Linked DNA regions of Homo sapiens: all the other regions are linked to region 4. Evidence: fine-mapped expression QTL. A gene starts in region 4. Each other region holds a variant in brackets. All regions are shown on one strand. Distances are from middle to middle. Region 1 overlaps TIAM2 (TIAM Rac1 associated GEF 2). Region 2 overlaps TIAM2 (TIAM Rac1 associated GEF 2). Region 3 holds the start of CLDN20 (claudin 20). Region 4 holds the start of TFB1M (transcription factor B1, mitochondrial).

Region 1 (5,151 bases), 78 kb before region 4:
AAATGTCCTTATCCATACATTAAAACACAAATAACTGCTTAGACGTCTGCCTGAATTCAGAGCTCTTGAGTGGGATGCTCCTCATCTATAAATAAGATAAAATCATTTTCAAGCAGGGATCAACCTTAGTATAACATTAAAAACCTGAACTAAAGGCCCGGCATGGTGGCTCACGCCTATAATCCCAGCAGTTTGGTGGGAGGATCGCTGGAGTTCAGGAGTTTGAGACCAGCCTGGGCAACATAGTGAGACCCTCCCTTCTCTACTAAAAATCAAAAGAATTAGCTGGGTATGGTGGCATGCGCCTGGAGTTCCAGCTGCTTAGGAGGCTGAGGTGGGAGGGTTGCTTAATTTCAGGAGTTTGAGGCTGCAGTGAGCTATGATTGTACCACAGCACTCCAGCCTGGGTGGCAGAGTGAGACCCTGTCTCAAAAAAACAAAACAAAAACAATTTGAGAGAAAATTTTTTTTGGGGGGGGGTTGGGGTTCAATATCATTGCTTTTCCAGATAGCATAATTTTTGGAAAAAATGTTTTTATTTAATCTTTTTATGACTTCTTAAAGAAAATATTGGTTTCATGCTCTTTTATGAAAGCTGAGGCCTGTGATGGACCCAAGTTTGTAGCATTGATTGCTACAAACTGGAAAAAACCAATCTGAGGCCCCCATTTCAAGTGCCCGTGTTTTTTATTCTGCATATGCACATCCTGTTAGGCCACTGAATCCTCACACTCCCAGCCCTAAGTTATGATCATCTGTCTTTTGCTTTTATTTATTTACTTTTAGAGATAGAGCCTCACTCTGTCACTCAGTGGTGTCATCATAACTCACTGTAACCTTGAACTCCTGCCTCAGCATCGTTAGTGGCTGGGACCACAGGCATGTGCCACCACAGCCAGCTAATCTTTTTATCTTTTGTAAAGATGGGTTTCCCTATGTTGTCCAGGATAGTCTTGACCTCCTGGGCTCAAGCCATCCTCCTGACTTAGCCTTCTGAGTAGCTGGGACCATAGGCGTGTGCCACCATGGCCGGCTAATTTTTTTTTATCTTTTGTAGCGATGGGTTTCCCTTATGTTGTTCAGGCTGGTCTTGAACTCCTGGGCTCAAGTGATCCACCTGCCTCATTCTCCTAAAGTGTTGGGATTACAGGCATGAGCCACTGTGCCAGACCAGTCTTTTGCTTTTAAAGCAGCATTCCTGGGGTGGGGGTGGAATAGGCTCAATAGATGTCCCAGTTGTCTGCATATGAGCTGTTTCTGCCTCTCTAAGCAGAGGTGGTCTCCAGAGGCAGGTGGCTGCATCCCTAGAACACCTGGGGCCAGGAGAGCCCTGACCACATGGGAGGCAGAGGCAGCAGGAGGCGTGAGGAACTAGATTGCTTTGCCTGTGCTCTGCTAAATACCTGGGAGTGGCAGGGGCTGTGCGGACAGCTAGAGAGGGGAACAGAGCTAGAGACGGAGCACAGCTAGAGATGGAGCACAGCTAGAGACAGAGCACAGCTAGAGAGGGGAACAGAGCTAGAGATGGAGCAGAGCTAGAGAGGGGAACGGGCCCTGTGCCATTTAAGGTCTCGCTGAAGCCTCCTTGCCCCTCAGCTGGAAAGCCCTGGAGAGTCATGGTAAAGCTGCAATGCTGGCATGTTCTGTGAGAAACCTCCCAACTGTGCCTTGTGCACAGCAGCTGCTCGGCAAACACGAGTTTCCTTTTCTTCTTGACCCAAACGGCAATTTTAGCAGTTACTTGATGGAATAGGCATTCCTGCTGCCTTTTCATCAGGAAGGACACTGAAGACTTAGAATCGAGACTTGCCCAGGAGTGCACAGAAGGCTGGGGGTTGAGCCTGGACTGCAGCCCAGGCCTTCTGACTCTCATCTGTGCTTTTCAGGCCTATCACCATATATGCATGTGAAGATATCCCAGCCCAGATAATCACTATTCCTATAAAGTGCTGATCAGGTTCACCCAGAATGTCCCTCTAATGTTTGTAAACATCACGAACAGTGGGTGAACTGAAATGTAATCACCCAAGTGACTCCTTCAGCTACAATCTGAAAAGACACACTTATAATTACTCTTCTCCTTTTGGGGGCCCTGCCTCCTTTTGGTCCCAAGTAATCCTCACCAACTCC[C/T]TTAGACAACAGCTAAAATGTTAAGTGTACAAAAGGTGGCTTTCTAGCACTTGAACACTTAATTGTGGTACTTTAAGAAGTAAATCTGCTATGAAAAATCTCAGCTAACATTCACTTTTTGGGAGTTAATCTTACCAGAAAAGTTCATAAAGTGAATTCTGTTTTTCTAAAATGGCAAGATACTTTATTTGTAAGATCTCGTTACTTTAACACTGCATTGTTAGGTGTGATTTTTGACATCCCAGTGAAGCAAAGCCATAATCTCACCAGATGCCATTTAACTTATGATGTATTTTATCAGATCTTATTTTATACAGTATATTCAAGCTTAATATAGATTCTATAGCCCTGGGAACTGTTAGTTTTCAGGACTGCAGAATTATATTGTCTGAGCTTGTGGTGCAAATCCCAGTACAGAGATTTCAAATCAGTGAGTCTTGGAGTCCGAGTATTATCATCGTGAACATTTTAGCTCACTTCATAGGAGGCCACAACCAGAACACCAGAGTCATGGCTGTGATTCCGTCAATTTCCTGTAGCCCGTGAGCTCTGTCCACATACCTCAGTGGGGACCCTGGGACAGGTGATCCCACTGGAGCCAGCACCACTCCCAGAAATCCAAGCAGAACGCGAGCTGTATGAAGAGTAGACCAGCAGTTCTCATGCAGGCCACACATTAGCAACACCTGGGGGAGTTTTTTTAAGAAACACCCATGACAGCCAGGCATGGTGGCTCATGCCTGTAATCCCAGCACTTTGGGAGGCTGAGGTGGGCAGATCACCTGAGGTCAGGAGTTTAAGACCAGCCTGGCCAACATGGCAAAACCCCATCTCTACTAAAAATACAAAAATTAGCCAGGTGTGGTGGTGGGCACTTGTAATCCCAGCTACTTGGGAGGCTGAGGCAGGAGAATTGCTTGCACCCGGGAGGCAGAGGTTGCAGTGAGCTGAGATCGTGCCACTGCACTCCAGCCTGGGTGACAGAGCAAGACTCTGTCTCAAAAAAATAAAATAAAAGAGCAAGTCATATCTTACGTGGATGGCAGCAGGCAAAGAGAGCTTGTGCAGAGAAACTCCTGTTTTTAAAATCATCAGATCTTGTGAGATCTATTCACTATTACAAGAACAGCATGGGAAAGGCCCACCCCCATGATTCAATCATCTCCCACTGGGCCCCTCCCACAATACATGAGAATTATTTATGGGAGCTACAAGATGGGATTTAGGTGGGGACACAGAGCCAAACCATACCATTTTGCCCTGGCCCCTCCCAAATCTCATATCTTCACATTTGAAAACCAATCATGCCTTCCCAACAGTCCCCCAAAGTCTCAACTCATTTCAGCATTAACTGAAAGGTCTACAGTCTAAAATCTCATCCCAGAGAAGGCAAGTCCCTTCCACCTATGAGCCTGTAAAATCAAAAGCAAGTTAGTTACTTTCTAGATACAATGGGGGTACAGGCATTGGGTAAATACAGCCATTCCAAATGGGAGAAATTGGCCAAAATAAAGGGGCTCCAGGCCCCATGCAATTCCGAAATCCAGCAGGACAGTGAAATCTTAAAGCTCCAAAATGATCTCCTTTGACTCCATGTCTCACATCCAGGTCACACTGATGCAAGAGGTGGGTTCTCATGGTCTTGGGTAGCTCTGTCCCTGTGGCTTTAAAGGATATAGCCTCCCTCCTGGCTGCCTTCACAGGCTGGTGTTGAGTATCTACAGCTTTGCCAGGCACAGGGTGCAAGATGTCAGTGGATCTGGGCTCTGGAGGATGGTGGCCCTCTTCTCACAACTCCACTAGGCGGTGCCCCAGTAGGGACTCTGTGTGGGGCTCCAACCCCACATTTCCCTTCTGCACTGCCCTAGTGGAGGTTCTCCATGAGAGCCCTGCCCCTGCAGCAAACTTCTGCCTGGACATCCAGGCATTTCCATACATTCTCTGAAATCTAGGTGGAGGTTCTGAAACCCCAATTCTTGGACTTATGTGCACTGGCAGGCTCAACACCACATGGAAGCTGTCAAGGCTTGAGACTTGCACCCTCTGAAGCCATGGCTCAAGCTCTGTGTTGGCTCCTTTCAGCCATGGTTGGAGTGGCTGGGACTCAGGGCACCAATTCCCTGGGCGGAACACAGCATGGGGACCCTGGGCTTGGCCCAGGAAACCACTTTTTCCTCCTAGGCCTCCAGGCCTGTGATGGGAAGGGCTGCCAAGACCTCTGACATGCCCTGGAGACATTTTCATCATTGTCTTGGGGATTAACATTCAGTCCCTCTTTACTTATGCAAATGTCTGCAGCCAGCTTAGATTTCTCTTCAGAAAATGGGATTTTCTTTGCTATTGCATTGTCAGGCTACAAATTTTCCAAAGTTTTATGCTCTGCCTCCTCTATAAGGCTGAATGCCTTTACCAGCACTCAAGTCACATCTTGAATGCTTTGCTGTTTAGAAATTTCTTCTCCCAGATACCTTAAATCATCTCTCAAGTTCAAAGTTCCACAGATCTCTAGGGCAGGGGCAAAATGCCGCCAAGCTGTTGGCTAAAACATAACAAGGGTCAGCTTTGCTCCAGTTCCCAACAAGTTCCTCATCTCCATCTGAGACCACCTCAGCCTGGACCTTATTATTCATTTCACTATCAGCATCTTTGTCAAACCCATTCAACAAGTCTCTAGGAAGTTCCAAACTTTTCCACACTTTCCTGTCTTCTTCTGAGCCCTCCAAACTGTTCCAACCTCTGCCTGTTACCCAGCTCTGAAGTTGCCTCCACGTTTTCAGTTATGTTTTCAGCAGTGCCCCCGACTCAAAAGAGAAGCGATTCTACTGAAGGAGCTCAGCCATCTGGGAGTTCCCATGGCAGACATCTGTTAGGGTCTCACCCTTACTTGCCCCTTGAGGTAGGCCTGGAACGTTACTGGGCTCCTTTTCCCACTGCACCTTTGGCACATTCTCTGGTTCTCCCTTGGAGCAGGCTCCCTCCAGGACATGTTACAACCCTTTCACCGAAGCCTTCCTGGACAAC
Region 2 (5,151 bases), 63 kb before region 4:
GGAGAGAGAGGCTTATTAACACTTTAGTATTACTGAATAATAAATACTGAGAAGAGCGTAAATTAAACTGGCTTTTTTTCCATGACAAGCATACTTTGGTATCAAAATCAACAAGAGGAAAGCATTTTTGTATGACAGTTAACTTCTATAAGTAAATAATACAAATTATGTTCAGCATTCATACTATGTAAAAACTTCATTTTGTATTAAGATGATCTTTAGAAGGGTTTGATTTAAAAAACTTCCTTCCAAACTTCCCTCCAGTTAGAATTAAAATGCTGAATTGGGAGAAAAAAAAGTATAAAGAATACTGAATTTAGAAGTGACCTAAAATTTTGCTTTTTGGCTTTTATAAAATAATGTATCTCTCATATTCCCTCGCGGAAAGTTATGAACATATACCATATATAAATGCAAACAATTGTTCTGTCAGTCAGTCATGTACTGGGGTGTTTTTAAGTTCCATTTAAACCTAGATCCGGGTTCCCAGAAGGGCAAGCCAAACTCGAGAGCTGGTGCCCTAAGCCCAGTCAGGCTTGGGTTTGAAGCCTGGCTCCATTCTTGTGTTTTCCTCTCTGGAACTCTGGCAGAATATCCTGCACTCACTTTTCTCATCTGTAAAATGGGATGGTTTAGTCTTTGAGTTATTGCGGGCACTAAATGAGATGATTCACAGAAATCACCTGTCGTGATCCTTGCTAAGTAGAAAGTGCTCCAGAAATGTCAGTTGTTGTTATTAGTGATACTTTTCACTGATACTCTGTCTCATTTCAAAAAGAATTTGAAGTAGGAGATAATTTTGCTGTTCTTCATTCTAAGGGCTGGGCTACAGTGGGCTGTTGTGACTTATTCTGAATGTAATGCTCCTGCTAGTGGGTACTGGTCTGGAATCCTGAGTTGAATCTTGACTCCATTCATTATTACTGTTGGATAGAATCTAAAACAAATAACAGTTATGAAATAAATATGATTTCATATCTTGCAGAAGCACTAAAGGCAATGGAGAAAGTAGCGAGCCACATCAATGAGATGCAGAAGATCTATGAGGATTATGGGACCGTGTTTGACCAGCTAGTAGCTGAGCAGAGCGGAACAGAGAAGGAGGTCCGTGAGACATCTGCACCCTGGGAGCCTAGTGCATGTGGTGTGGGGTCTGTAGGTGACCTTCTAGATAGGCTGCCCTGTTAGGACTTTCCTGGAGGAGAAAATGCCTAAGATTTTTCTTGATAACAATGTGTCTAATGAACTACACAATTTACATATAGACATATCATAAAATTCATTACACTGGTTTAAAATATAACCTTATGTCACGTTCACATTGTCTGGAACATCCATGGAGGGTGAGAGCTGGCAGAGGGTGGGGTGGAGAAAGGACATGGGAACTGGCATGTGGAGTCTGGGGCTTTTCCTTTTTGATTTTGCCTTTTTTTTTTTTTTTTTTTAACATCAAATATTGGTGGTTACCTGCTTACTTATAAAACTAGTCCAAGCAGGATTTGACATTTTCTGTATTTTTCCTTTTTATCTGATTGCTTAATTTAGAATCTTGTGCTTCTCAAGCCAGCATGCAGGAAGTAGCATAGTTTAGGGAGAAAATGGCAGGAACAGGAAAGGACTGGAGATCAGTCCTTCACTCTGGCCAGTTTCAATGCTGGTGCTCTTTTATCAGCAGCCCGAATGGAGCTCAGAGGTGATGGATGTACTAGATCCCAGGGGAAAGCTTACAAAAGGCACTCTGGAAGAACCACGGACACTGGTAGAGTTCATCTTATGGAAACTGAGTTGGTCACAAGGCATGTCTCACCTACATGTGCGTGCACTGGAGCAAAATGCCTTCACCTTTATGTTATTCATCAGACACTTGGGTGCTTAACTCATATTTTCAAAAGCTCCACCGTTTAAGGCCCCATGTTTACAGGTATCATAAAAATTAAACCAGCTGTGCTTGCATTTTAGCAATGACTGTGTGTACATCACTATCTAACAAGAGATCATCTAGCCTGGGATTTCCGTATCTTCCTTACCTCCTGTTTTTACAATCTAGGTAACAGAACTTTCGATGGGAGAGCTTCTGATGCACTCTACGGTTTCCTGGTTGAATCCATTTCTGTCTCTAGGAAAAGCTAGAAAGGACCTTGAGCTCACAGTATTTGGTTAGTATTCCATTCAGAAGAATGCAGACTGAACAGAGGCTGGGATTACGGAAGAACTTCACTAGCCGCACCAGT[C/T]CAGCTCACTCCTGAGCTCCAGGAGTCAGAATTGCTATAATGGTTGGGGACTTAACAGGGCCAGCCCCCAACTATTTGAAACTCCGGCATCGCTCTGCATCCTCATTATCTTGTTCTCCCTTCTGCTGCTTGGCTCAGGCCAAGTGTTACAGGAACAGATCCCTGCGGCTATTTTGAAACCTGCTATCTTTTTCTTTTTCTTTTTCTGAGACGAGGTTTTGCTCTTGTTGCCCAGGCTGGAGTGCAATGGTGTGATCTCTGCTCACTGCAACCTCCACCTCCCAGGTTCAAGCTATTCCCCTGCCTAAGCCTCCTGAGTAGCTGGGATTACAGGTGCTCGCCACCACGCCCGGCTGATTTTTGTATTTTTAGTAGAGATGGGGTTTCACCATGCTGGCCAGACTGGTCTCGAACTCCTGACCTCAGGTGATCCACCTGCCTCAGCCTCCTGGAGTGCTGGGATTACAGGCATTAGCCACCGTGCCTGGCCAGAAACCTGCTATCTTAATAGTCTGCTGTATTTCAAATGTTTTAATTCTGAGAGTTGGGAGAACAAGTGACAGTATATTGTCACTGAGATGAACACAGTGTCCTCAGCTTTCAATAAAACAAAGAGTTTAAAAAAGCCAAGATCAACTTCTAATAGTAGCTTTTAAATAAGCAGGTGCTTCTGCATAGTTCAAATATGAGCGAAAGGGAAGTACCATTTATTCACTCATGTTGGCAGAGTGAGGTCTTAGAGACTCATACGTTTGGAGAGTGTTACTCTGTTAAGACGTTCAGCTCTAGTTTAACCTTGGAAGAGTTTGCATAAAATAAAGACTTTCTTTCTCTTTTCCTTTCTTTAGTTTTTAAGAGAGCCGTCATACTGGTTTATAAAGAAAACTGCAAACTGAAAAAGAAATTGGTAAGGCAAAAATTCATTTTAATTTAAGCTACCTTTTCATAGCTGTATCTTCCTATTAACGTTGAACTGAAAAGCCCACTGAGCACCAAGGCTGGGCTGACTGATACTGCTTACTCTGAGGGTAACTAACCCCATCACATACTGAGAGCGTTTCTGAGTCTCCCCATGAAAGATGTCTGTTTTAAAAGAAGATATACAGCTGGGCACGGTGGCTCATGCCTGTAATCTCAGCACTTTGGGAGGCTGAGGCTTGAGCCCAGGAATTTGAGACCAGCCTGGCCAACATGGTGAAACCCTGCCTCTACCAAAAATACAAGTAACTGGGTGTGGTAGCACGTGCCTGTAGTCCCAGCTACTCGGGAGGCTGAGGCAGGAGGATCAATTGAGCCCAGGAGGTGGAAGCTGCAGTGAGCCTTGATCATGCCACTGCATTCCAGCCTGTGCGACAGAGTGAGACCCTGTCAATAAATACATAAATAAGTAAATAAAGTAGATAAATACTCATATGGGGGCCTACATAGAACATCGACTTTTATATCCCTGAAAATGGCCCATGTTTGTTCCATAAACATAGTCTGTGAAACTTTGGTTTATTTTCAAATGCCTTTTACCTTCACTCAGAAAAAAGCAAAGCCTAGCTGTGGATACCATATGCCATTGGTTTACCATTCAGAGGCAGCGTCAGGGCGTGGAAGCTTTGGCTGCTGTTCTTGCTTTGAGACCTGTAACTGCTTCTGAACCACAACTCTGCCTCCGCACCTTCCCTAGCATGTGAGGTCTTTGAGAACTGGGTGCGTAGCTGATTGACTTCTGTGCCCTGAACACCCACATGGCTGCTCGGAGACTCGCCCACAGGGAGAACATAAACTTCTATTCACTGTGCACACATCCTCCCTCAGTGACAGCTTCCCTAACACTTTTCTTGGTGGGCCTTCATGTTACAGCCCTCGAATTCCCGGCCTGCACACAACTCTACTGACTTGGACCCATTTAAATTCCGCTGGTTGATCCCCATCTCCGCGCTTCAAGTCAGACTGGGGAATCCAGCAGGTAACTGTTTCGTGCAGTATGATGCCAGAAAAAGCATTTTAGTAGACTTAACTGTGGAATGTAAATTAAGAAAGGACCTTGGGGATAATTTTTGGTGCCTTTTATTTTATAGACAAGGAAAATGAGGACAAGAGAGGTTGTTTTGATGTTCCTTAGCAGACTTCTGGGAGAAACTAAATGCTGGTGGATAGCTTTTTCTTTGCCAAATGCCTTTCATTGTTTCCTTATTTTCCCTATCAATAGTTTTCAACATTTTCCTTTCTGCCTTGATACCCTAAAATGTGTTAGAAGAACAAAGATCCACAAATTTATGTTTTTACAAATTTAGAATATAGCAGAAAATTCCTTAAGGTTAGGTAGTACTGTAGGTGATATAAAAAGAAAAAAATCTTTGACTCTGGAAAATGTTCAGAGATCCTTCCAGAGTAACCTTGTTTTGGTGACAGGTATCTGGTGACAGAAGAGGCCAGCAGGCTGAGTCATGCAGTGACCTGCTGGGCTTCTGTTTAACTTTTGTCAGAAGTGCTTATGTTTTCGAGAAAATGACCACATTTGGGGCAGGCCTCTTTTACCTCAAGTACCCCAGCTCCTGTTCCTTCCAAGGAAAGGGCAAAACTGCAAAGGAGGTTGAAGAATAGGATCCACTGAATCTCCTCTTCCCCAGAGAGGGGCTCCAGAGAGAGGGTGAAGGCAGTTCAGATGGAGGAAAATCTGCAGCAGGAAATGTAAAAAGTAACCAAAAGGCATTTCAGTTCTTGTAACTGTGAAAATCATACATAGAACAAGCCACAGAAGAAAATGAGCCAGGACTGGGAATATTAGACTTTCTTAACTGATGAGATTTCAACTTTACAAGTGTTCTTAACCACAGCATTTTGGGCAAAGTTGTAGACTCTTGTTTCCATTTCCTTTTACATAGGGACAGAAAATAATTCCATATGGGAACTGATCCATACGAAGTCA
Region 3 (5,144 bases), 52 kb before region 4:
ACAAGTGGCAGGCTGAGGCTCCAGCTTCTGCCATCTGGCATCCTCAGCAATGGGCTTTGTGGACTGCAGCACTCTTAGGAGCTGATGCCCAGCTGGCCCCTAAAATAATCTGCTGTCATTTCATATGCTAAAGGGACACTTCGGACCTTGTGAAAGAGAGAATTACAATGAAGCCATGTGAGGAGGTTTTAGAAAATGAGAAATATGTGCCTCTCACGCCGAGCCTCTTTAAACAGCGGACTATGGATAGATTATCGTAGATGGAAATCTTTTACAAATACACTTTCCTGCCTTCTTAAGCAGACTATCACTGGGCTTAACTAAACAGCTTCTTGGCTCTTTCTGGATCTGCAACAAGGCTGTGGTCCTTCAGAGCCCATCGAGGTGGGCGACCTCTAGACCACCAGGCCCTGTCAGGTTTTCCCAGTGATTCCTGAGAGCCTCTTGGCAGCAGCAGCTTTCTGTGAGATGGAAACGTGCTTACGTGAGGACTTCGTGATATGATTTTGGCTGCTCAGAAGTCATATTTGCTTCCTAGTTCTCAAGTGTGTCCTTAAAGAAGAGATAGGGCAACTCGGTAGAAAGCAAGCATTTAAAAAACCCATTATTATCTGTCTTGAGTCCTCACTGGGGAACCACGAGCTCCCTGGTACAGAGCCTCTGTGAGCTGTGCAGTCACCAACTCCAGGCTGCGCTTATGTTTAAGCCACCCTGAGAGAGGCCACCTGAGGTCTAGCAAGTCTTTGCTCTCTCCTCATTGGCAGTGAAGTCTTGTCCGTCACAGGCCTGAACTAAGTGTAATACTCAGAGCTTTAAGAATAGAGCAAACAAGGTTCTCACTCTTAAAAAGTGCCTGAGGATTTTATAAAGACTGCAACTGAAGAGAAGAAAAGGCATTCTTACCTGAGCCCTCGATGGCAGTATTTCCTTCGGAACTGAAATACATTCTGAACCACTTTTTCCACCAGCTTGAATGGCTGCTCTATCTTGGGCTGTATCAAGGGAGTGAAGTGCACCACGCCCACGTCCACCTTCGTTGTAAGCAAACATATTATCATTCTGTGGCATGATATGTGGCATAGTGTGATCAATCAACTCATCCTTGTAAAACAGGAGGATGGGCTGTCAACAGCCTGTTTTCATAAACAGACCTTTCCACGTACTTCGGTTTCATCTCTAGGCATGGAAGATGGTACATTCTGGATTCGCAAATGACATGGAGAAATCAGCCGGCTGCACCTGTTCTCTAATGACATCCACCAGACCTGTGCTTGATGGTCACTTAATTTTAAAACACAGTTTCACAATGGCTTAAAAATCAATCCAAATCATTAAAGTCAGTCAGCAGATAATAGATGGCATTAGAATATTTTAGTTTTTGAATGAGGAAAAAAATAAGCCGCAGCAGCAGCTTCAAGACACAGAGAGATGGCAGACAGGCCCCCAGGGACCACTCAGTGCTAAACTTCCCAGATAGAGACACCACTTATTTTCGGTAGACACTGATTAATCAGCTGGACTGAATTCATGAGTGTAGTCTGAAAAGCCACAGAACTTTCTAGTAGCAATTTTAAATGCCCCGAAAGGCATAGGCAGGACTGAAATTGAAAATGGAAACCATCAAAAAATGTCACTGTTTGATAGTGTTTAAGCTACTGCCAGCTGTGGAGATTCTTTAATTGTCAGAAGATAAAACTTTTCAGGCATATCTTATAAGAGATTTATACCCTGATTTGTTCCAAAAATGGACTCATGGTGATTCACAAGGACAAATTCAAATACCAAAGGAAAAACATTTAAAGACAGAGGGAAATGGATTCAAAACAGTAACTACACACACAAAAATGCTAACGGAGACCATGGTCTAGGAAATGGGAAGTCTCGTCATAATTGACAAAAGCCTCAGTCTCCAGGAATTGTTAAACTTGTTAATGAGGATCTCATACAGACTCAACAAAAGGCGAAGAAAGTACGGCAATTTAGGAGGTGTGGGCTGCACCACTGCTTTTCAAAAGGAACTCCATTGTTGAAATCCCATAGAGGTTGTCATTTTCTCCTAAGAGGACTTGCTTCTAAAGATCCTTGTGGCTACATAATTCCTTAAACAGATGAAAATGGGAGACTGGCTTTTCTGGTTGTGTTTCTTTTAGGGTAGAAGGAAAACAACTGAATATGATGTGAGACTTTATGGACAAGAAAGTGAAAATAAGCTGTGCTCAGCCTCACACAGCCTGACGCGCTTGTGGGAGGTGCCTGTGGTGCCTGAGCTGTGTCATCAAGGCCCCGGACCCCTGAGAGCTTGCACCTCCCTATTTAAACAATCAATGAGCCTGTCCCCGAAGGTTTCAGGTCAGCTACAGCTGCTCCTACTGGATGGAATGGGAAATAGAAGGCTTTGGTGGTAAGGGGCGGTGTGGGCTGGCGCATGCTGAGAATGTGCCAAG[C/G]GGCCTTTCCACACCCCAAATGCCCACCCCCAACATCCATCAGCCTTCTTGTGAAGTCCAGCAGGCTGTTCTTGTGAAGATTCTATGGTGGAACAGTAGTTATGAACAGTGACTTAACTAAGATGTCAAATGCTCTTAATAAATTTTAGTAAGTTTTTTGAATTGTGTGCTATATGTTGTTTCATGTTTCCTCAAGTTTAGTAACAACTACCTCTTCCTACAGGACTTCCCTTAGACTTTAACAAAACGCACCATAGAACAGTGCCCAGCTTGGAGAGGTCTGTGGTCATCAGGGAAAGAGGGACTGAAGAAGACAAGGGGCTGTGGAGTGGATGCAGGGTGTAGGTGGGGTAGATGTACTGCTATAGGGAGAGAAGAAAGGTGGTTTCAGCTCAGGGCAGTTCTGGGGAAGGAAAAAGAAGACCTGATCTATGAATGGCAGAGTGCAGGCAGCAGCCCAAGACACACTCCACTGACTTCAGATGTCAGGTTCCTTCCCACAAACTCTGAACTATCCTGCCTACCTCGCCTCCTCCTGATTTGTATAGAGAAGTGGTCCCAACTGTCAGGCATGTGTCTGGCCACTCTCTACACCTCGCCAGCCTTCTCTCACTGGACTCTCCATTTCCCTTTCATCCCCTGAGCTTCCTGGCACCCTTGTCCCTGCCTCCCGTTCTCCAGGACTCATCTCCTGTAACCCTTCAACTCCAGTTCTCCCAGTGACAAAGAGCCAATTCTATCAATTCTTACTAGCAGCCTGCTAGTCTCCAGAAGAAATACTCTTAGCAAAATCTGAGATAAAATCTAATCCCTGCCTAGGCCTAAAACCATGAAATATTATCAAAACTCTACATAAGGCTTACAAACTATTAAGACCAAAAGCACAAATACAGAGATAGATGCACTCTCTTCCAGTACAGAAACTGCCACTTTCAGCTTCCTTAGATTTTAAATTTTGGCCTCATCTTTATTTGCCTGATTTCATTCCTTTGAGATATAGTTGGTATTTGCAAATACAGGAAGTGTCTAACTTTTGCTTGATTTAAATAAAGTTTTAAAACCCTGAACAAATATAGTAGTACCCCATGTAAACTATAGCGTCGACTTCTAAAGTTTGAATACAATTCCAATACTCTGTTAAGTTGGCTTATATTATGTCACGGCTAAAAGAGAATTCCCCTCACAAATGCAGTTACTATTTAGTGGGAGATTCTGTAAAACTCAGCGTCAACAAAGCTCTTCCAGTTATGTCTCCTGCTTCTGGGACGGCCAGGACCTCTCCTGTACCACCCCTTCCTCTCCCTTTCCCCCAAAGGCACCTTTCAGAATTACTCTGAATGATGGAGCCCATTTTTTTCTAGAACTATAGGAAAGCTGCTTGGTAACTATGGTAACGAATACAAAAATGTTTTTTACTTATAATTGAATGCTTATTTAAAATTACAAGTATTATTTTTTCTTCCTTGAGTTTTAAGTCTATTAATGGGTTTGATTACAAAAAAGAAATCAGTACAAAGGCATCAGAAGTACTTAAAATATTCTAGTTTAATGCCGCCAGCCTTTTCCAAACTCAGTCCATCAGTATACCAAAATGACCTACTAAAATTTCAAATGAAAGGATTTAAAATGAATTTAAATATTTGCCTTTCTAACCCTATACGTCAACGCTGTAACAAGCTAAGACTGTTTCTCAGTGTTAGCAGCCTTGGCCATAACAGGCCCGAGGCAGATGTCCTAGTTTCCAGGCCAGGGTGTCTAGGACGTGACTGGTTATCAGCTCAGAGCAGCACTTGGAACTCACAAGGGACCCGGGCTAAGGAGATATTAAATCTTAAATCTTAGATATTAGATATTACAACTGAGAACTGTAATCAACATGATATACAGAGGACACTGAAGAGACGTACAACTCAGTTCCTGATGATTATCATATGCCCAAAAGCTAAGTCACGACCACATGCACAGACACAGAAACAATGCTGGCCACTGTCTACAAAAGGGTCTTCATTCAACACTCTCACGGTGTTCAAGACCATTAGAGGACAAGATAGTGGAGATGAAAAAATGATGAGGAAGTTACTATGTAAATAGCCAAGACACAGCCATAACTTAAGACAACAGAAGGGCTAGTGAAAAAAAAAAAAAAGACCACAGGGAATAATCAGTAAGACTTTAAAGAACAACATATAAGAAGGATTCAAAGTTCGAAGTGGGATGATCACGGGCAGACCTGGGTGGTTGGGAACAGGAAGCATATGGCATCTTGCAGGCTATAGGCACCACAAAATGGAACGCAGGAGGACAGGGGCTTGGGAGAGCCACTTCACTGTCGGGTAAAACAACGGAGCAAGATGAGTGCCTCCGGATGCTTGGTTTCCCCACCCTCCAGTGTCTGCTTGCTCTTCAAGTACCTCCACCAAGCTAATGACAGTCCACTTTAGGACATCACGGGCCTCGAGGTTACAACTTTCCCAGGTAAGGAGAATCCCAGGTAGAGGCAGCAAGTCACTGATGCCTGTGATATGATAATTATGCATGTCATAGAAAAAGAAAATACTGACAAATGTGAATGTAGATCACATTTTCTGGAATTGGTTCACTCTACCTGTGATCCATGTCCAAAAGCCAATTTAAGGAAAGAATTTCCACTGTAAAACCTTAAAGCTGACAGCATTCTAAGTATTTCAAACCAACTGGTTC
Region 4 (5,151 bases):
CAGTATTGCTAGTGAAATCCAAAAGCAAAAAGTGCTGAAGTCTTATTTTTATCTAGAGACATCTTGGTGGTGGTCACTATGGCAATGGCAATAAGTTCTTAGATCGTAAGATTTTCAGAAATTTGAATTCTTAGTCATTTTCAGGAAAAAGTTAAATTGAGCAGTTGAGGGTTTTTAAAGCTTTGCACACATGCATGTTAATACAGAAAAATTAATTTTTTAATTAATCAAATTCAAGTTAGCAGCCCTTAAGACATCATAAAAAGGTAGAGTACTGACTCTGTGCAACCAGTCATCACATCTGGAAAAACATGCAATGGGCTGGTCTTAGTGATTCTGAGATATGGAAATCCAAGGAACTGGTCTTCCTAGGATAGTGGAAATTTAGTCACTAAAAACATACCAGCACTTCTTGTAGGTGTTCACAGTCCTATTTTTGCTTGTTTTCAACAACATAACTTTGTCAGCTAAAATGCGGAAACTAGTTTCTCAGCCATCCAAAAATGGTTTAGTCTTTTAACAGGGAGGGAATTAGCATCCACTGACCATCTTATCTATTATGATGGATTTACACACATTCTCACCTAATCCTTACATGTTAACCAAGGACTCCTATCCCAATTTCATTTCTCTTAACTTTTCAGTTTCCTTGTCTATTGTTTTATTTGTACAAGGTCATGGACTTCAACATAGGTATAAATCCTAAAGCCAATGCCTCTCAGAGGGAACAGGAATGATACATTATGGAATAAATTTAATACTCTCCTTCTTTAAAATGGAGAGCTACAACAGTAGGCAGGTCTCTGCTCTCAAACTTTTCAGGCACATTGAAATACAAATGAATATTAAAGAAGCGCTATCAAATCAATGAGCTTGGATTTCAATCTTGCTCTCTTCTGCCTGAGCTTCTAACCTCAGCTAAGTACCCTCATCTCCGTTAACTCTGGTTCCCATAGAAAGAGTGGATAATATCTAGAATTTGAAACTTACTCCTGAAGATAAAGGCTCATGAGAAAATGTATTTGAAGGATTTTAAAAAATACACAGACCTATAACTTCTGCCCTGAGAATGGTGATTTATATTTAGAATGTGGCTAATAACAAGCAGAAAAGGCTGGTACTAGCTATTACTAGAACCAAAGAATTTTAGAGTGGGCAATCTTTTAAAGTAGTAGGCCCTTCTTCCAATTAAAAGATGAGGAAACTACTGGACATGGTGGCTCACACCTGTAATCCCAACACTTTGGAAGGCCGAGGCGAGTGGATCACTTGAGATCAGGAGTTTGAGACCAGCCTGAGCAACATAGTGAAACCCTGTCTTTACTAAAAACACAAAATTAGCTAGGCACGGTGGCTCACGCCTGTAATCCTAGCTACCTGGGAGGCTGAGGCACGAGAATCACTTGAACCGGGGAGGCGGAGGTTGCAGTGAGCTGAGATCATGCCATTGCACTCCAGCTTGGGCAACAAGAGTGAAACTCCATCTTAAAAAAAGAAAAAAAAAAAAAAGAGAAAACTTGAGTTAAATTATTTTATCCAAAGTCATATTGGTACAGGCAGAATAAAGACTACATGTCCAAGAAATAAAACATTTTATGTTTTCTGGAGTGTGCTTCATTTAAGTGAAAATGAACTTTTTGGGTGTGATTTACTGCTCTTTTCAACTTCTGAAGTGGGACTAAATAGAATGAAATATGAAAATCTCAAAACCTAAGTACTCCAGCCGTGACTTAGTAGACGTATTTGTAATATATTTTTGCAACCTCATCTCATAGAACATCACTAAGCAATGGTGATGGTGGTTAAACCAATATATAAATACATTCGTCAAAACTCATCAAATTGAGCACTTCAAACTTATTAATTTTATTGCACATAAATTATATCTCATAAAAAGTAACTTTAAACAATTAGGTGTGGGAATGTAAACTTGCTAAAAGTAAGCTCCTCGAGGAAACACCGCCTTGTTCACGCCCATATCCTACCCCCGGCACTAGCACAATGTTGCTTGTGTAATATGTACTTATGAATGAATATTAGCGCCCCCGAGGCTTAGACTGAACAGGTAAACGTTTAAAAAACGAATCATACGAGGGATACTCTTTTCACCAAGTTATTGATAAAATCCTCGCATCAATTTAAATTCTGGTAACTTTAAACTGCATGTAAAGCAACTGCAGTCAGCATGTGCTGTACTATTTCAGAATGATTGATTTCACAGTGACCCAGATTCCAATATTCACTAGCGCCTTTCACGACCCATGAACCCTTCCTCCCCTAGGGAGCTTGGCATTTATGCAGCCTGCCGGCAGGCTACACCCCCCCGAACGCGGAGTTTTGTGAGCAATCAACGCACTTCACGTGTCTCCTGGGCGGTGGGACCGGAGTTCTGATACAAAGAGGTCGAAGGACCTGACCAAAAGCCCGTCGCACGCCAGTGCCTGGACACCCGCCCGCGGGGACGTGCAAGACCCCCCGGCCCACGCCCCCACGGACACTGGGGAGACATCCGGGGAGCACTGCTAAGCCATCCACCTGTCAGCCTCAAGTCCAGGAGGAAATTCTGTGATAGCTGCTTCGCTGCTTGCAGTCTTAACAACTTAATGATTTCTCGAATCGTGGGCAACGGAGGGAGACGGCAAGTGCTGAGTTTTCCGGAGGCAGCCATGATACGCGGCAAGCACCATCCAACCCTACCTCACCCAGGACCTTCACCGCCGCTCCGAAAGAAACGCGCAGGGGAGGAACCTGCGAGACCTAAGGCCCGCCTCGGAGTCAGCCCCATTGGTCAGACCTATCCCACCGGAAGCGATGACCGCGGACAGGAAATTCCCGGCGTGCTGAGAGCGCATGCGCTAAGTCCTGCCGCGAGAAGGGCAGGCTGGGTGGTCGGCGGCTTCCGCCTGTGAGAGCCGGGGGAGAGCCGGGTGGACTAGGCTTCTCCTGGGCGGGCTATGGGGAGAGCGCCCAGGAGGGCGGGACGAGGCGGGGCCTGGACAGGGTGGGGTTTTTCGGAGGAGTTGCTCTGAGAGGTGCAGCCGGTTTACTCCCGCCCTGAAGTTCCCAAGGGCTTCCGGCTCTTTAACGTTCTAAATACCTGTCTGTGAATATTAGAGGAAAAGCGGGTGCTTAGAGGCAAAGCTACTGTTTGTTAGCAATTCTTTCTTACTGTGAGGCGTTTTTAGAACCGCCGCTCTGCAGATGCTGCATGATGGGTTTTTAACTTCGTTCAGCCTCAGTTTTTTCATCAGTTAAATGGAGCTAATGTCTACCTCAAAATTGTGAGCACTAAATGAGAGAGATCGCCTGGTGTGCACGTTCAGAACATAGTGCACGCATGGCATTGGGTAAGCTCCCACGTGATCAGTGGTGGCTGTTATTATTTGGCAGATGAATAATTGGCCAGTGTAAAGAGGTCATTCGATTTGCTAGGATTACAGCTAAGAACAGAGAGAAGACTGAAATATGAGTTCTGTCTTTCCGTTATACGAGATAAAAACAACGAAGCAAAAAAAAAAAAAAATTAAAGTTTCTCTGATAGGTGGGAGAATTTTGCTGTTTTAACCCTGCTTATGTTTGGACATTGCTGCGTTGATCACAAATGAATTTTAAAGTTTCTGTTCCTCAATTAGTAAGTTTTTAAAAAAGCTAATGGAAAACGAAACAACTATGGGTATGGATATAAAAATGAGGAGTACTTTGAAATTCCAGTGGAAAACTCAACCACCTTCTATAAAAGCTGTTTTAAAAGGAACTGAGATAATCTCCTAGCTTTAAAAAATAGTGATGACTACCATAGAGGTAAGGAGATTTGCCCAACGTGGCATCAAAATGTAGACTGGAAGTACAAACTCTTGATTCAGATATCTTATCGTCCAAAACACAGTATACCTGACAAAGCATTATTTCACAGTTATATTCATTATTTCCCGTACTCCTCACAATGGTCCCATGTGAATGAGATTATTATTCTTAGTTTGCTGTGAAGAAATAGGGGAGGTGAGGTCATTTGACAATGCCCAGAGTCAGACAGCAAAGTACAGAGAGAAGACAACCTGAGTTGTGTTTTTTCTGAGTTCTGATCTCACTGGCCACACTCAAGTATCAGCTTATTATTTTTAAGTTAATATGTGTTAATTTTGTAACATCTAAATATATAGAAATACGAATCTAGGTGTAAACATAAGCTTACAGTTTTCATATGACTATTTAAAACAATTGCAATAAATATATACAAAACCAATACAAATGGTCTTATTAATTGACAAGGATGAACACTGTTAAATCACGACACTTAGTGCTAACTGGCAGGTTTTCTTTTTTTTTTTTTTTTAAGTTTCAGCCTACCAGTGATCCAGTGTGCCATGTAATGACTGAATGTTCTCATTAGTTTTCTGGAGTCAAACTATTACCAAATCTTTGTTCAATTTTTTTTCCATTGTCGCTTGTCTTTCTTTTGGAAGAATATGGAAGCTACATATTAAGTCTGCCTGCATCTGTTTTCAGTAGCTTGGAAACAAGTGAATTTGAATTATTTGGCACTAATGCTACCATGAACACACACGTTGTGTAACAGGTATAAAGAGGATGTTCAGATGACCCCAAATATAATCACATGAGCTTTTTAAAAGATTAACATCAACATAAAAACAAACTAAAATCTAAATGAGTGAAACACCTTTGCGTGGAGAATTTGTAGATTCCTGATAATTTGTCCCCAGATCTAAATATGAATTTATGGATGGTTTATACCATGCCATCTTCAATAACTGAACCTATTTATAAAGCAGCTTCCTTTGTTACTTAATTCTCATTTCAATTCTGTGATGTAGGTTCACAAAGATGTGTCTTAGTTCATTCCTGCTGCTATAACAAAATATCTGAGACTGGGTAATTTATAAAGAACAGAAATGTACTTCTCACAGTACTGGAGGCTGAAAGTCCAAGATCAAGGAGCTGGCAAGTTTGTTGCCTTGTGAAGGCTGCTCTCTTTACCTCAAGATAGCATCTTGTTGCTGCATCCCCCAGAAAAGAGGAATGTCATGTCCTCACATGTCCAAAGGCAGAAGGGCAAAAAGGGATTAGCTAATTCCCTCCAGCTCTTCATAAGGTTGCTAATCCCATTTATGAGAGCTCTACCTCAATCAATTA

Evidence for each region.
Region 1: its variant is fine-mapped to the expression of TFB1M in skeletal muscle (GTEx, PIP 0.93).
Region 2: its variant is fine-mapped to the expression of TFB1M in testis (GTEx, PIP above 0.99). The same link has a PIP of 0.9 or more in whole blood.
Region 3: its variant is fine-mapped to the expression of TFB1M in whole blood (TOPMed, PIP above 0.99).

The regions. Positions count from the first base shown.
Region 1 is chr6:155,233,533-155,238,683 of GRCh38, forward strand. All of the region lies in intron 15 of TIAM2 (TIAM Rac1 associated GEF 2), which reads left to right. It also overlaps a transcript of TFB1M not described here. Among named protein-coding and RNA genes, the nearest start is that of CLDN20, 28 kb to the right of the region's middle. The variant C/T (reference allele first, on the strand shown) is at 2,131.
Region 2 is chr6:155,248,866-155,254,016 of GRCh38, forward strand. TIAM2 (TIAM Rac1 associated GEF 2) reads left to right here. Exons shown (of 27, transcript NM_012454.4): 21 at 986-1,104; 22 at 2,048-2,156; 23 at 3,080-3,138; 24 at 4,083-4,188; 25 at 5,108-5,151. It also overlaps a transcript of TFB1M not described here. Among named protein-coding and RNA genes, the nearest start is that of CLDN20, 13 kb to the right of the region's middle. RefSeq lists an enhancer at 4,918-5,151. The variant C/T (reference allele first, on the strand shown) is at 2,232.
Region 3 is chr6:155,259,370-155,264,513 of GRCh38, forward strand. TFB1M (transcription factor B1, mitochondrial) reads right to left here. Exons shown (of 7, transcript NM_016020.4): 6 at 904-1,031. CLDN20 (claudin 20) reads left to right here and starts at 4,644. Exons shown (of 2, transcript NM_001001346.3): 1 at 4,644-4,919. The variant C/G (reference allele first, on the strand shown) is at 2,445.
Region 4 is chr6:155,311,761-155,316,911 of GRCh38, forward strand. TFB1M (transcription factor B1, mitochondrial) reads right to left here and starts at 2,724. Exons shown (of 7, transcript NM_016020.4): 1 at 2,536-2,724. The coding sequence starts at 2,668. RefSeq lists enhancers at 2,499-2,818, 2,817-3,807, 2,889-2,938, 3,489-3,538 and a silencer at 2,989-3,068.